Homo sapiens: one gene and its partner. The protein of the gene in region 1 interacts with the protein of each later gene in a biochemical or structural test. Each region holds a gene or a part of one and is shown on either strand. Other genes may lie near its edges.

What was found. Proteins that work in one complex are often made in the same cells at the same time.
Region 2: the proteins of ESR2 (region 1) and MMS19 form a complex in vitro, tested with the Homo sapiens proteins (one study listed by BioGRID).

The regions. Positions count from the first base shown.
Region 1 is NC_000014.9:64,284,356-64,291,379, reverse strand, and holds part of ESR2 (estrogen receptor beta), read left to right. Parts: intron 1-7,024.
Region 2 is NC_000010.11:97,460,419-97,467,442, reverse strand, and holds part of MMS19 (MMS19 nucleotide excision repair protein homolog), read left to right. Parts: intron 1-541; coding exon 542-667; intron 668-857; coding exon 858-939; intron 940-1,283; coding exon 1,284-1,384; intron 1,385-1,488; coding exon 1,489-1,638; intron 1,639-3,429; coding exon 3,430-3,585; intron 3,586-4,760; coding exon 4,761-4,860; intron 4,861-5,323; coding exon 5,324-5,426; intron 5,427-5,546; coding exon 5,547-5,615; intron 5,616-5,820; coding exon 5,821-5,947; intron 5,948-6,435; coding exon 6,436-6,536; exon of another isoform or gene 6,537-6,623; intron 6,624-6,691; coding exon 6,692-6,748; intron 6,749-7,024. UniProt on the Homo sapiens protein: Key component of the cytosolic iron-sulfur protein assembly (CIA) complex, a multiprotein complex that mediates the incorporation of iron-sulfur cluster into apoproteins specifically involved in DNA metabolism and genomic integrity.

The sequences.
Region 1 (7,024 bases):
GGAATTATGACAGGTCTTGAAAATGAAGGGCTTTTAGTGGAGAATCTTTGTGTGGGTGTACTTGAGAGAGGGCAGGAGAGTTAGGGTGACCTAGAAAGATAGATTGCTGGACTTGTATATGTTTCCTCAAAGCCAGACTGCAGCATTTTGTTAGTAAATTGTTGTGTGTTCTACTGTCAAACCCAGGCCTGGAAGGGGAGTTGAGTGCATTCAGCCTAACTTCTGGATTGGCTGTGTCATCTTGAATCCCTTCACTCGGAATTCTCTCTGACCCTGTCCCAAATGAATATTTGAATTTGGTCCAGTTCCTACAGAGCATGGTCTGTGGCTGTTGTTGGTGTTAGGGAAGAGCAGAAACTTGCTGTTGAGAGAGAAGACACTTGAGAAGACTGATGAACTCTCTCCCACCCCTGCCTTCGAGGCTTGGTCCTCCTACCCTATTCAAACCCTTGAAACTCTTTCCTATCCAACTAAATAAGCGCCAATTGGTTACTAGGAGAATTAGCTTTTCCTCATTTTAGAAGGAAACAGGGTTTCCTTATGTACATGTTCTTAAGAATTACATGCAAATCAGTTATTAATGATGAGTTCTCTGGTGATTTTGGAGTGTTTTATCTTCCTAATATTAAATTAATTGAGGGCCTTAATATTTTGTTTTGAAAGAATATATTTAAAAAGGCTGGGTGTGGTGGCTCACGCCTGTAATCTCAGCACTTTGGGAGGCCTAGGTGGCTGGATCACTTGAGGGCAGGAGTTCAAGACCAGCCTGGCCAAATAATGAAACCTTGTCTCTGTTAAGAATACAAAAAATTAGCTGGCCATGGTGGCTCAAGCCTGTAGTCCCAGCTACTCAGGAGGCTGAGGCATGAGAATTGCTTGAACCTGGGAGGCCGAGTTTACAGTGAGCCGCGATCATGCCACTGCATTCCAGCCTGGGCAACAAAGCAAAACTCTATCTCTAAATAAATAAATAAATAAATAAATAAGAATACATTTAAAGATAATAATTGGCCAGGTGTGGTGGTTCATGCCTGTGATCACAGCACTTTGGGAGGCCGAGGTGGGAGGATTGCTTGAGGCAAGGAGTTCAAGATCAATCTGGGCAACACAGTGAGACCCTATCTCTACAAAAATTTAAAAATCAGCTGGGCATGATGGTGCATGCCTTTAGTCCCAGCTACTTGGGGGGCTGAGTTTGGAGGATCCCTTGAGCCCAGGAGATCAAGGCTGCAGTAGGCCATGATCTTGCCACTACACTCTAGCCTGAGTTACAGAGCTAGAGTATAACCCCCACCCCCCAAAAAAGCTAATAATTGTCAAACAGCTACTTATGCACATCAAGGATGCTTGTTGCTTAAGAAATCTTTTTAAATCTTTTCCATGAAATTCCTTCTAGTTGCTGCTTTGTGAGCGTGAATTTTTTACTTCTGCAGGACACACAAATGTGGAGCATTTGAACTGAATGCTTGGGAAAGTGTGATGGGCAGGTGGAAGAAGAATAGGGATGAGGACTTATCCTCTATTCTTATCCTCCTAGACTTATCCTCCTAGTCTGCAAGCTTGAGAATATGGCATCAGGAATATGTGGCATTTTGTCCACACACACAGTGTTGGCAGGCTACCAGCAGCCCAGCTATCTGGACTAGGGGTGATGGATTTCTGTGGACAGAAGTCAAAAAGTAAAATTAGGAGGCAAAAATCTTCAGGGTGGCCATAAAGACATTGTAACTTGTCTGGAAATTCCAACCAACACTAAATGTGTATCCAGTGATATACCAATAGACTGGCTTCATCTTCTTGGATGTGTAATAATACCTTACAGAATGCTTTCTTTTTTTTTTTCTTTTTCTTTTTCTTTATTTTTTTTGAAATGAAGTTTTGCTCTTGTTGCCCAGGCTGGAGTGTAATGGCACAATCTCAGCTCACTGCAACCTCCACCTCCCAGGTTCAAGCGATTGTCCTGCCTCATCCTCCCGAGTAGCTGGGATTACAGGCATGTGCCACCATGCCCGGCTAATTTTGTATTTTTAGTAGAGACGGGGTTTCTCCATGTTGGTTAGGCTGGTCTCAAACTCCCGACCTCAGGTGATCTGCCCACCTTGGCCTCCCAAAGTGCTGGGGTTACAGGCGTGAGCCACTGCGCCCGGCCTCAGAATCCTTTCACAGACATCATCTCATTTCACCCTCAGAGCACCGTGAAAAGGTACAGCACCAAATAGGTACCTGATTCTACTGAAGAAGATGTGGCAGCTCAGGGAGTTTGTGGATTTGTCTAAGATTGCCTGGCTTTCAGGCAGAGCTGGGGCTAGAATGAATGTTCTGCTCTATCCATTGATAGAATATACATAAGAACAGGCTTGATGGTGGCTGACCTTTTTTTTTTTTTTTTTTTTGAGACAGAGTTTTGCTCTTGTCACCTAGGTTGGAGTGCAGTGGCGTGATCTCGGCTCACCGCAACCTCCACCTCCTGGGTTCAAGCGATTCTCCTGCCTCAGCCTTCTGAGTAGCTGGGTTTACAGGCAAGCGCTGCCACACCCGGCTAATTTTGTATTTTTAGTAGAGACTGGGTTTCTCCATGTTGGCCAGGCTGGTCCCGAACTCCTGATTTCAGGTGATCTGCCCACCTTGGCCTCTCAAAGTGCTGGGATTACAGGCATGAGCCACCCGCGCCCGGGTGACTGATTTCTTATTAACTAGATTTACAGGTGCTTTGATAAAAACCAGTCTAGTCTTGGCTGGCACGGTGGCTCATGCCTGTAATCCCAGCACTTTGGGAGCCCAAGGCGGGCGGGTCACGAGGTCAAGAGATCAAGACCATCCTGGCTAACATGGTGAAACCCCGTCTCTACTAAAAAATAGAAAAAATTAGCTGGGCATGGTGGCGGGCACCTGTAGTCCCAGCTACTTGAGAGGCTGAGGCAGGAGAATGGCTGAACCCGGGAGGTGGAGCTTGCAGTGAGCCAAGATTGCACCACTGCACTCCAGCCTGGGCAACAGAGCAAGACTCCATCTCAAAAAAAAAAAAAAAAAAGTGTAGTCTTTTTGGAGTGTTTTTCTGCCATTTCTAGGGCCAAACTTTTTCTTGTCCATGAATCATTGTCAAAATTGGGAATTTTAAATACTACTTTTTTCTTTTAATTCAAAAGCCATAGTATGTTTCCCAGCCAGTACATTAGAACACCATGCACGATCCCATGTGTACAAAAAGCTTTCTGGCTGAATTCAGATGTGACCTGAGAGGGCCAAATACAGGGGTGTGTGCTGGGAGAGAGAGAGAGGTCTCTGGACAGAAAACAAAGCCTGTTCACCACCCAGGATATGGACCAACTATTTTAGGTTATGGTGACTAAAGAAAATTGACATGCAAATAAATGAATAATTCTTAGAATCAGGATGTCTGGGTACTGGTTCTTTGGTTGGCCAGGTGAAATTCCATGCCAGGCCCAACAATTAAACTCTTTAGAGACAATTTTTTCCTGTTGTACCAGAACATTGTACTGAGGCCATGTTTGAACATTCAATCGATGTGTTGGGAAAACTCTGCCCTACAATGTTAAAGAAATTAAATCTTTTGGGGAGTCTTTCCTTTGACCAGTTTATATCTCTGTTTTAGAGGAGGGCTTCTCAACCAGAATGGGTTTGTTGACTTATTTTTACAGACCTCTGGTAGAAAGGAGGTCTTTTTTTGCTACCTGTTCTCCTGTCTCAGAGAACTATTACAATGGTGTAAGTTCATCATTTCTTCCCCTTATTATGGCTCTGCTTAGGAAGAAAAACTCTTTGCATTGGCTACCAAGTACCTAACTATTCAAGATGCCACTGACAAAGAGTTAATCTGTGAATCATGTGAATCTGATATATCTGAAATATATCCAAACAAAAAGCACCTAGCCTTTTAATGACTCTCCAGAAGTCAGTTCTCTAACTTTAATTATCATCCTTCTGGGGATATGTGGAAATTCTACAGAAGTTGATTGGTGATATGTTGAGATGTGAGATCTGTATTTTCTAAGCAAAGTTGCCATGCACCTGATTGATTGGCTAGGTGTATCCTGGCATTTGTCATTTGTTGGTGGGGTCTGATAGTTGGTTTCACCACTGCTGGGTACCCAGAGTCATCACATCCATAGAGACAGAATGTAGGCTGGTGGTTGCCAGGGGCTGGGGGAAGGGAGGAGTGGGGAATTTGTTTAACAGAGAGTTTTAGTTTTGCAAGATGAAATGAGTTCTAGAGATTGGTTGCACAATAATGTGAATATCCTTAACACTACTGAACTTTATACTTAGAAATGGCTAAGATGGTAAGTTTTATGTTACATGTATTTTAACACAATTAAAAAAGAAAAAAAAAAAAACAACTTCAGGCCAGGCACGGTGACTCACACCTGTAATCCCAGCACTTTGGGAGGCTAAGGCGGGCAGATCACTTGAGGTCAGGAGTTCAAGACCAGCCTGGCCAACATGGTGAAACCCCATCTCTACTAAAAATACAAAAATTAGCCTGGCCTAATTGTGCATGCTTATAATCCCAGCTAATTGTGAGGCTGAGGCAGGGGAATCGCCTCAAACCCTGGAGGTGGAGGTTGCAATGAGCCGAGATCACACCACTGCACTCTCCAGCCTGGGTGACAGAGTGAGATTTCATTTCAAAACAAAAAACCACTTTAGAAACTGCTAGTTTTGGCAATAGTTATCACTATATGTTTTATCCTGCATATTTTCTGTTAAGAATAAGGAATTGTTTATGTTGATCAGGAATCTAAGTAATTAAAATACAAAATTCTGGCTGGTGGCTCTCGCTTGTAATCCCAGCACTTTGGGAGGCCAAGGCGGGTGGATCATTTGAGGTCGGAAGTTCAAGACCAGGCTGGTCAACATGGTGAAACCCCATCTCTACTAAAAGTACAAAAAATTAGCTGGGCATGGTGGTAGGCACCTGTAATCCCAGCTACTAGGGAGGCTGAGGCAGGAGAAGCACTTGAAGTCAAGAGGCGGAGGTTGCAGTGAGCCAAGATTGTACCACTGCACTCCAGCCTGGGTGACACAGCGAAACTCCATGTAAAAAAAAAATGAAATATAAAATTCCATACTCATTATTAATTACATATAGTATTAAAATAAAACCCAAACACCAAACCTTCCTTGATCCTATATCCTTCTCCAGCTACCATTCTCTCTCCTCTCCTTGGTCCAAATTTTTGATTTACAATGTTGGTTGGAAGTGGTACCACTTTGGTGTTAGTTCCTTATCATTTTACCTGGTCTGTCCTGCCTCTTCCTGGTACATTAGCTCCCTGAAGGCAGGGTGTATGTCCCAGAACTCCTTGAAGTCCCTTTTCTCAGCATACTACCATGCCTACTGCAGCACCCCCCATCTTTAATGTCCTTGACTTGGTGAAATATTACATTTTGAACACATTTCCTCACTTCCTTATGACAAATATTGATTGAGTTTCAGTGCAAGGTGAGTAAGAAATGGTACTTGCTTTCAAGGAGCTAAAAATCTGAATTTCCTTTTTTTTTTCTTTTTCTTTTTCTTTTTTTTTTTTTTTTGAGACAGAGTCTCACTCTGTCACCTGGGCTGGAGTGCAGTGGCACGATCTCAGCTTAATGCAGCCTCCGCCTCCCAGATTCAGTGATTCTCATGTCTTAGCCTCTCGAGTAGCTGGGACTACAGGCATGCACCACCACGCCTGGCTAACTTTTGTATTTTTAGTGAAGATGGTGTTTCACCATCTTGGCCAGGCTGGCCTCAAACTCTTGACCTCATGTGATCCACCCACCTCGGCCTCCCAAAGTGCTGAGATTACAGGCATTGACTTTACTTCTTACTCTCCTATGCACCTCTATCATTTTGAAGAAGGGTTCAAGGTAGTTCTGATAAGCAGGATTAGGTTTGTATGTAAGTGATTAAAGGGGTGCTATGAGCAAAAAAAGTGTGAAGGTATAACAAGCCAACCACCTCACAATGCAGTTTGCATGTTTCTTAATGGACATAGCAGGTTTTCTGTAAGAAAACAGCAGGAGATTCGTGTGGAATGATGGGTTGAGGCAACATAGTGGCATCCCTTGAATGCTCGAAGAATGTGACTTAGAGTTTGGTGGGAAGCAGAGAGCTGGGTTTTAAGAACATGAATCTGACAACTCTATGGATCTGGAGGAGAAGCTAACTGGGGACGAGGAGCAGTAAGAAGCCTGTTACAGATGCACTGATAAGAAGTAATGAGAGCTGGCCGGGCACAGTGGCTCACGCCTGTAATCCCAGCACTTTGGGAGGCCGAGGCGGGCAAATCACAAGGTCAGGATTTCAAGACGAGCCTGGCCAACATGGTGAAACGCCGTCTCTACTAAAAATACAAAAAGTTAGCTGGGCGTGGTGGCGGGCGCCTATAATCCCAGCTACTCGGGATGCTGAGGCAGAAGAATCGCTTGAACCTGGAAGGTGGAGGTTGCAGTGAGCCGAGATTGCGCCACTGCACTCCAGCCTGGGTGACAGTGCGAGACTCCGTCTCAAAAAAAAAAAAAAAAAGTAATGCGATAATGAGAGCTTACTTCAAGATGGCAGCAAAAGACAGTGGAAAAAAGGCATTGGGAAAAAAAGCCAATGTGCCTTGATGAGTAAAGTTAACTGAGTCAAGGGGAGAAGTCAAAGGTAACTATGATGGGCTTTTTCTATTAACACAAATAGGAAATGAGTGGTTTTGGGAAAGAAAGTGATGAATTACCCCTCAGATATTGTATTAATTGTCTATTACTGTGGCCGGGCATGGTAGCTCATGCCTGTAATCCCAGCACTTTGGGAGGCCGAAACAGGCAGATCACTTGAGGTCAGGAGTTCGAGACCAGCCTGGCCAACACGGTGAAACCCTGTCTCTACTAAAAATACAAAAATTAGTGTGGTGGTGTATGCCTGTAATCCCAGCTACTCAGGAGGCTGAGACATGATAATTGCTTGAACCTGGGAGGCAGAGATTGCAGTGAGCTGATATGGCGCCATTGCACTCCAGCCTAGGCAACAAGAGTG
Region 2 (7,024 bases), on another chromosome or scaffold:
GCAGGGCAAAGAGTGCTGTGGAAAAGTAGTCTAGAACAGTGGTCCTATTCTGAGGTTGTAGCACAAGAGAACACTTAACAGATGAGATGGATGAGATCTGTTTATTTTTCTCAGTGTGCTTTCTGGATACCCAATGGATTAAGCTCTTTAAATCTGCCCCAGGAGGCGGGGCATGGTGGCTCACACCTATAATCCCAGCACTTTGGTAGGCTAAGGCAGGCGGAAAACTTGAGGTTAGGAGTTCGAGACCAGCCTGGCCAATATGGTGAAACCCTGTCTCTACTAAAAATACAAAAATTAGCCAGGCCTGTTGGCACATGCCTGTAATTCCAGCTACTCGGGAGGCTGAGGCAGGAGAATGGCTTGAACCTGGGAGGCAGAGGCTGCAGTGATCCGAGATTACGCCACTGCACTCCAGCCTGGGCAACAGAGGCCTTGTCTCAAAAAAAAAATCTACCCCAGGTTGGCTGTGTATCACAGCTTAGTCAGGGATATGGAATGCAGTGGCTTCCTTCTAACCTGGCCTCTGTCTCTTCCCTAGATCAAAGGCCTCTGAATGGCTTCAAGGACCAGCTGTGCTCACTGGTATTCATGGCTCTAACAGACCCCAGCACCCAGCTTCAGCTTGTTGGCATCCGTACACTGACAGTCTTGGGTGCCCAGCCAGGTACATCTTAAGGGAAAGAGAAGAGGAAAATATTGGTCCTTTTCTTGTAAGACTGCCTTGGTGAAAAGCAGCCTTACTATCCTCTTCTTACTGCAACTCTGGATGATTTGGGATTTCTAATAAGAGCTTAGAAGGGTTGTGATGGCTGCAGGGGAAGAAAGATGAGATTCATGTTCCCTTCTAACTACAGATCTCCTATCTTATGAGGACTTGGAGCTGGCAGTGGGTCACCTGTACAGACTGAGCTTCCTGAAGGAGGATTCCCAGAGTTGGTGAGAATTTAAAGCAATGAGATAGAGCAAGCTGTTCCCTGCCTCTGTATTGGCAGCAAAAGATCAAGCTAGGACCAGGGCTCTGTGCTTCTGACCCTTGGCTCTCCTTAGGGGAGGTGAGCTCTGTGTTAGACTCTGGCTGCTAACCAGTTGGAGAGATGTAGGACTGCTCTCTTCTTAGGCTTTAAGAAGCCCTGTCCAACTCAGTGGTGTAGGTACTTGAGTTCTGCTCTTTAGCAAGGAGGCGTTGGGAGCTCACACTCCTGAATCTGCCTAATATCAGACGTAGGCAAGAGAGCTGTGAGCCCAGGCTCAGCCAATGCTTATCTGCTCTGCGCCTCCAGCAGGGTGGCAGCACTGGAAGCATCAGGAACCCTGGCTGCTCTCTACCCTGTGGCCTTCAGCAGCCACCTCGTACCCAAGCTCGCTGAGGAGCTGCGTGTAGGTATGTGTCTCTAATCCTCTGTGGCCCATCCCTTTCCAGCAAGGCTTTGGGGCCTTCGTGCTTCCTATCACACAGTAAACCTTTGTCTCATGGGTTGCTTTCAGGGGAGTCAAATTTGACTAACGGAGATGAGCCCACCCAATGCTCCCGGCATCTGTGCTGTCTGCAAGCCTTGTCAGCTGTATCAACACATCCCAGCATCGTCAAGGAGACACTGCCTCTGCTGCTGCAGCATCTCTGGCAAGTGAACAGAGGTAACTACTAGGAATAACCACCAACGGACTGGGCTGAATAGGGAGCTGTAGTCTCTAAGGCAGTGGTTCTAGCTGTAGCTATACATAAGAGTAACAGAATCAACTCTTTTAAAAGAAAAAAAAAATACTGATGCCTGCGTCCAACTGAATCAGTCTCTGAGGAGGGATGGGACTTAGGCAACAGTACTATTAAGAGTACCCGGCCAGGGCCGCTGCTCTTGCCTGTAATCTCAGCACTTTGGGAGGCCGAGGCCAGCAGATCACTTGAGGTCAGGAATTTGAGACCAACTTAGCCAACATGGAGAAACCCAGTCTCTACTAAAAATACAAAAAATTAGCTGGGCATGGTGGCATGCGCCTGTAATCCCAGCTACTGGGGAGGCTGAGGCAGGAGAATCTCTTGAACCCACAAGGCGGAGGTTGCAGCGAGCTGAGATTGCGCCACTGTACTCCAGCCTGGCCAGCCTGGGCAATAGAGTGAAACTCTATCTCAAAAGAAAAAAAGGGTTGGGCGCAGTGGCACATGCCTATAATCCCAGCACTTTGGGAGGCTGAGGCGGGTGGATCACAAGGTCAGGAGTTTGAGACCAGCCTGACCAACATGGTGCAATCCCGTCTCTACTAAAAATTATCTGGTCATGGTGGCAGGCGCCTGTAATCCCAGCTACTCAGGAGGCTGAGGCAGGATAATCGTTTGAACCTGGGAGGCGGAGGTTGCAGTGAGCCAAGATCATGCCATTGCACTCACACCTGGGCAAACAGGGTGAAACTCCATCTCAAAAAAGAAAAAAAAAAGTGCCGGGCTGGGTGTGGTGGCTCATGCCTGTAATCCCAGCACTTTGGGAGGCCAAGGCTGATGGATCACTTGAGCTCAAGAGTTTGAGACCTAACCAGCCGATGCAACATGGCGAAACCGCATCTCTACAAAAAATACAAAAATTAGCCAGGAGCAGTGGCATGCACCTGTAGTCCCAGCTACTTGGGAGGCTAAGGCAGGAGAATCACTTTGAGCCCGGGAGGCAGAGGTTGGAGCAAGCCGAGATCGCTCCATTGCACTCCAGCCTGACCTGGGCAACAGGAGTGAAGCCCTGTCTCCAAAAAAAAAAAAAAAAATTACCTAGGTAATTTTCATGTGGGATCTGAATTGAGAGGCATCACCCTAAGGCCGTGGTGCTCAAAAGATGGTCTGTTAACCAGCAGCATGGGTGACATCTGGGAGCTTGTTAGAAGTGCAGAATCTCAGGCCCTCACTGATCAGAATCTGCATTTTGACAGTGTACCCTGGTAACTCGTAGACTGTTGAGTTTGAGAAGCACTGCTCCAATGCAAAAGTGACAGCAGCCTGCCCTGTGGGTAGATTCAGGCCCACTGTGGTTGATCCAGCAGCTGTTACATAGTAGAATGAATACTAGACTTGGATTATAACTTGGGCTTGATTCCTGACTTTGCACTTCCTGTGACCCTGGAAAAGCCACTGATCATGTATTTCATTGTGCCTCCATGTCCTTCTCTATAGAGTGAGGGAAATGATACTTCTAAGGTTGTTATGAAAAATAAGGAGAGAATATATACAAGTGCTTCTGCTGCAGAGCCTGGGACAGAGCAAGTCTCAACTATGAAGTCTGAATAGATCAGAAAGAACAGCCAGGAGAATAAAGTGACTCAGCTTTTTAATAAGGCACTCTTGGTCCCTTCAGTCACTCTTCTTTGTTCCTCTCATCTGCTGTGTAATTGGAAACACCTGAAAGTGCTTTTAAGCAAACCTTACAGAGAACACTTTCTCATCAACAGGGAATATGGTTGCACAATCCAGTGACGTTATTGCTGTCTGTCAGAGCCTCAGACAGATGGCAGAAAAATGTCAGCAGGACCCTGAGAGTTGCTGGTATTTCCACCAGACAGCTATACCTTGCCTGCTTGCCTTGGCTGTGCAGGCCTCTATGCCAGGTAACTTTCCACCTCTCCTTCCTGGCCTTTGGGAACTTTGCCCTCTGCTGGTGTTGAACAGCACCACCCTCTGGGTATTGGTGGTACTGTATTTTGTACCATCAGAGGTTTATTTTCAATCCTTTGTCCTCAGAGTGAGATTTCACTTCATAGCAAAGGGTGCCACCCTGACCAGTGGCAGGAACCAAAATCCACTAGTGTTAGCAACATTCAAAAGAATGCACACCTTTTCCCCATGAAGTGCTATGTGATTAGTTTACTTAGAATTGGACTCTGGAGTCAAGCCCACCTGGTTGGGTTTTATCCTCAACTCTACCACTTGCTAACTTAGGTGAAGATATTCAGCCTTTCCACGCTTCAATTTCCTCACTTGTAAGATGGAGATAAAGAGTACCGTCTAGGCTGGCGCCATGGTTCACACCTGTAATCCCAGCACTTCAGGAGGCCAAGATGGGAGGATCACTTGAGTCCAGGAGTTTGAGACCAGCCTGGGCAACACAGGGGACCCTGTTTCTACAAATAGTCAGACATAGTGGTGCACACCTATAGTCCCAGCTGCTCAAGAGGCTGAGGTGGGAGGATCACCTGAGCCCAGGAGTTCAAGGCTGCAGTGAGGCATGATTGTGCCTCTGCACTCGAGCCTGGGTGACAGAGCGAGATCCTGTTCCTGTCTCAAAAAAAAAAAAAAAAAAAACTGTTTCACAGGGTAGTTGGTAAGGATTAAATAAGTTAGTGTATAGTACCTGCCACATAGGAAGTACTCAGTGTATGATAGTTGCTATAAATAATAAGGACCCATGAAGATAAATCTATGTTTTTAATTTTTTCAGAGACCAACATTACTATTTTTTTTTCCTTGCATCTCCAGGGACACCAGGGACAACATTTCTATTTCTTATGTTAAGAATGTTCATCTTAGCTATCCCTCTTTCCCACTGTTGGCCTAGTCTAAAGACTGTGCAGAGTTCTCAGGAGCGCTCTGTGGCCCCAGGTCAGACCACTCCTGTTTCTGGTGCCCTGATTCTCAGGACTATAGCACTACCAGAGACCAGATTAAGAACTGCTGTCGTGGCTAGAGTCAAGCCCCAGAGTCAGTGATGCTGACAGAACCCAATCATTCATTTCTTGAACCCGTCATGGTCTTGTGATTGTGTGCATGTGTGTGTGTTTTGCAGAGAAGGAGCCCTCAGTTCTGAGAAAAGTACTATTGGAGGATGAGGTGTTGGCTGCCATGGTGTCTGTCATTGGCACTGCTACAACCCACCTGAGCCCTGAGTAAGTATAATCATGGATGTGGCTTGAACCCAGGGAGAAGGATAGCATTCTTAGGAAGAAGCAACAGGTAGCTGCCTTGTCAGCTGTCCTTTTACCTATATGTAAATGTGGTGCAGTTAATCGTCTTGTAAGTTTTGTTGACAAAACAAAAGGAAGGGGCTCTTAGCACCATGGACTATGAGGGTGGGAAGCCAGGGCCAGTGGTTCTTAGCCGCAGATGTGCTTAAGAATTACCTGTAGAGCATTTTAAAATATACCTTGACTTCCCAGATGGGAACCTGAATGGAAATGATTACTGGCACATATGTGCCAAATTAATATTTGTTCAATGCATGAATGATCAGGGCATGTCCCATTGACGTGGTGATCCTAATTCAAACCCTAGGTTGAAAAGCACGTCTGTGGAGGAGAGGGCTGCTTTAGAATCCTAGCTCCTTGGTCATACCTAGTACTCTGCCCCCAGGTTAGCTGCCCAGAGTGTGACACACATTGTGCCCCTCTTCTTGGATGGCAACGTGTCCTTTCTGCCTGAAAACAGCTTCCCGAGCAGATTCCAGCCATTCCAGGTAACAGTCTTAGAACTTACATCCTTCAAGCTGGTTTTTTTTTAGGGCTAATCTGGAATGGGTAGAGGGGCAGACAAGCTTATTGCTGGCAGGCTTGATCGGGCTCTCCTTCCTTTATAGGATGGCTCCTCAGGGCAGAGGCGGCTGATTGCACTGCTTATGGCCTTTGTCTGCTCCCTGCCTCGAAATGTAAGTGAGCACATTTGGGAAGTACTGTTATTTAACCTTGACAAGGTGACTCCGGGCTGAAATTTGCCACAGGCTAAGCTGATCTTTTACTTCCCCCACCAGAGAAGTTAGTTCTCATCCGTCCCGGTCCCTGCTGCCACTATGTACTGGTTCTCTTGGAGTTCAAGTGTTCTCTGGGTCCATTACATGGCCAGGTTTTCTGTAGGTGGAAATCCCTCAGCTGAACCAACTCATGCGGGAGCTTTTGGAACTGAGCTGCTGCCACAGCTGCCCCTTTTCTTCCACCGCTGCTGCCAAGTGCTTTGCAGGACTCCTCAACAAGCACCCTGCAGGTACTGAGATCAGACTATGTAAGGAGCCTCCCAGAATCAACTACCCATGAAATCTTATAGCTCAGTACTCATTCTCTTTTTAAAAGGAGCTTGCTAATAACATTAACAGGGCTTCAACTGCTCAAGCACTGTCCTGGGACTGCCCGTGGGAAAAGCGTCAAGACCACAGTTGGGCAGAGCTTTATAGTACCTAAGAAGAGAAGGGAGCACAAAGAGTCTAGTTCTGCCGTCCTACTCCCTACAGTGGGGCTAGTGTGGATAATTCTTTATTGGAAGTAGATGACCCTCTCTTTTCAAATGGCAGCACCTCTGTATTATGAGAATACCAGGCTCTTATGCAGGTGTCCAATCATTTTGTCCACAGGCAAAAATGATATTTTCCCTTTCTAACAGCTTCTCAGGGAGCTCTGCACTTAAAGTGATTTGCATTTCATTGCTAAAGGGAAAATGTGTAGCCTTTATGTCAGCATTTCCTCTCTCCTTTTTAGGGCAGCAGCTGGATGAATTCCTACAGCTAGCTGTGGACAAAGTGGAGGCTGGCCTGGGCTCTGGGCCCTGTCGTAGTCAGGCCTTCACTCTTCTTCTCTGGGTAAGGAGTTGGAGTGGAGTCTGGTTAGCCAGAGAGGCAATTATGTCTGGTTAAATAAAATGTCCCTGTTTGACCCTAAACCATAAACATCTATGTCTCAGGGTTCTCGGGTTTGAGTGTCATTCCCCAATTGCTCTCTCTGTCTCCAATTACAGGTAACAAAGGCCCTAGTGCTCAGATACCATCCTCTCAGCTCCTGCCTTACAGCCCGGGTACGTCCTTTCTGGAGACAGAAGAACCCAGGACCTAAACAAACTTTCTGGTTGCTCCTATTCCTCCCAAGGACTTCCATCCTCCCCTGTGTGTTTTTTGTTTTCTTTTCTTTTTTCTTTTTGGAGACAGGGTCTTACTCTGTCACCCAGGCTGGAGTACAGTAGTGCAATCACAGCTCACTCCAGCCTCAACCTCCGTAGGCTCAAGTGATCCTCCCACTTCAGCCTCGCAAGTAGCTGGGACTACAGGGGCACCCCACCACACCCAACTAATGT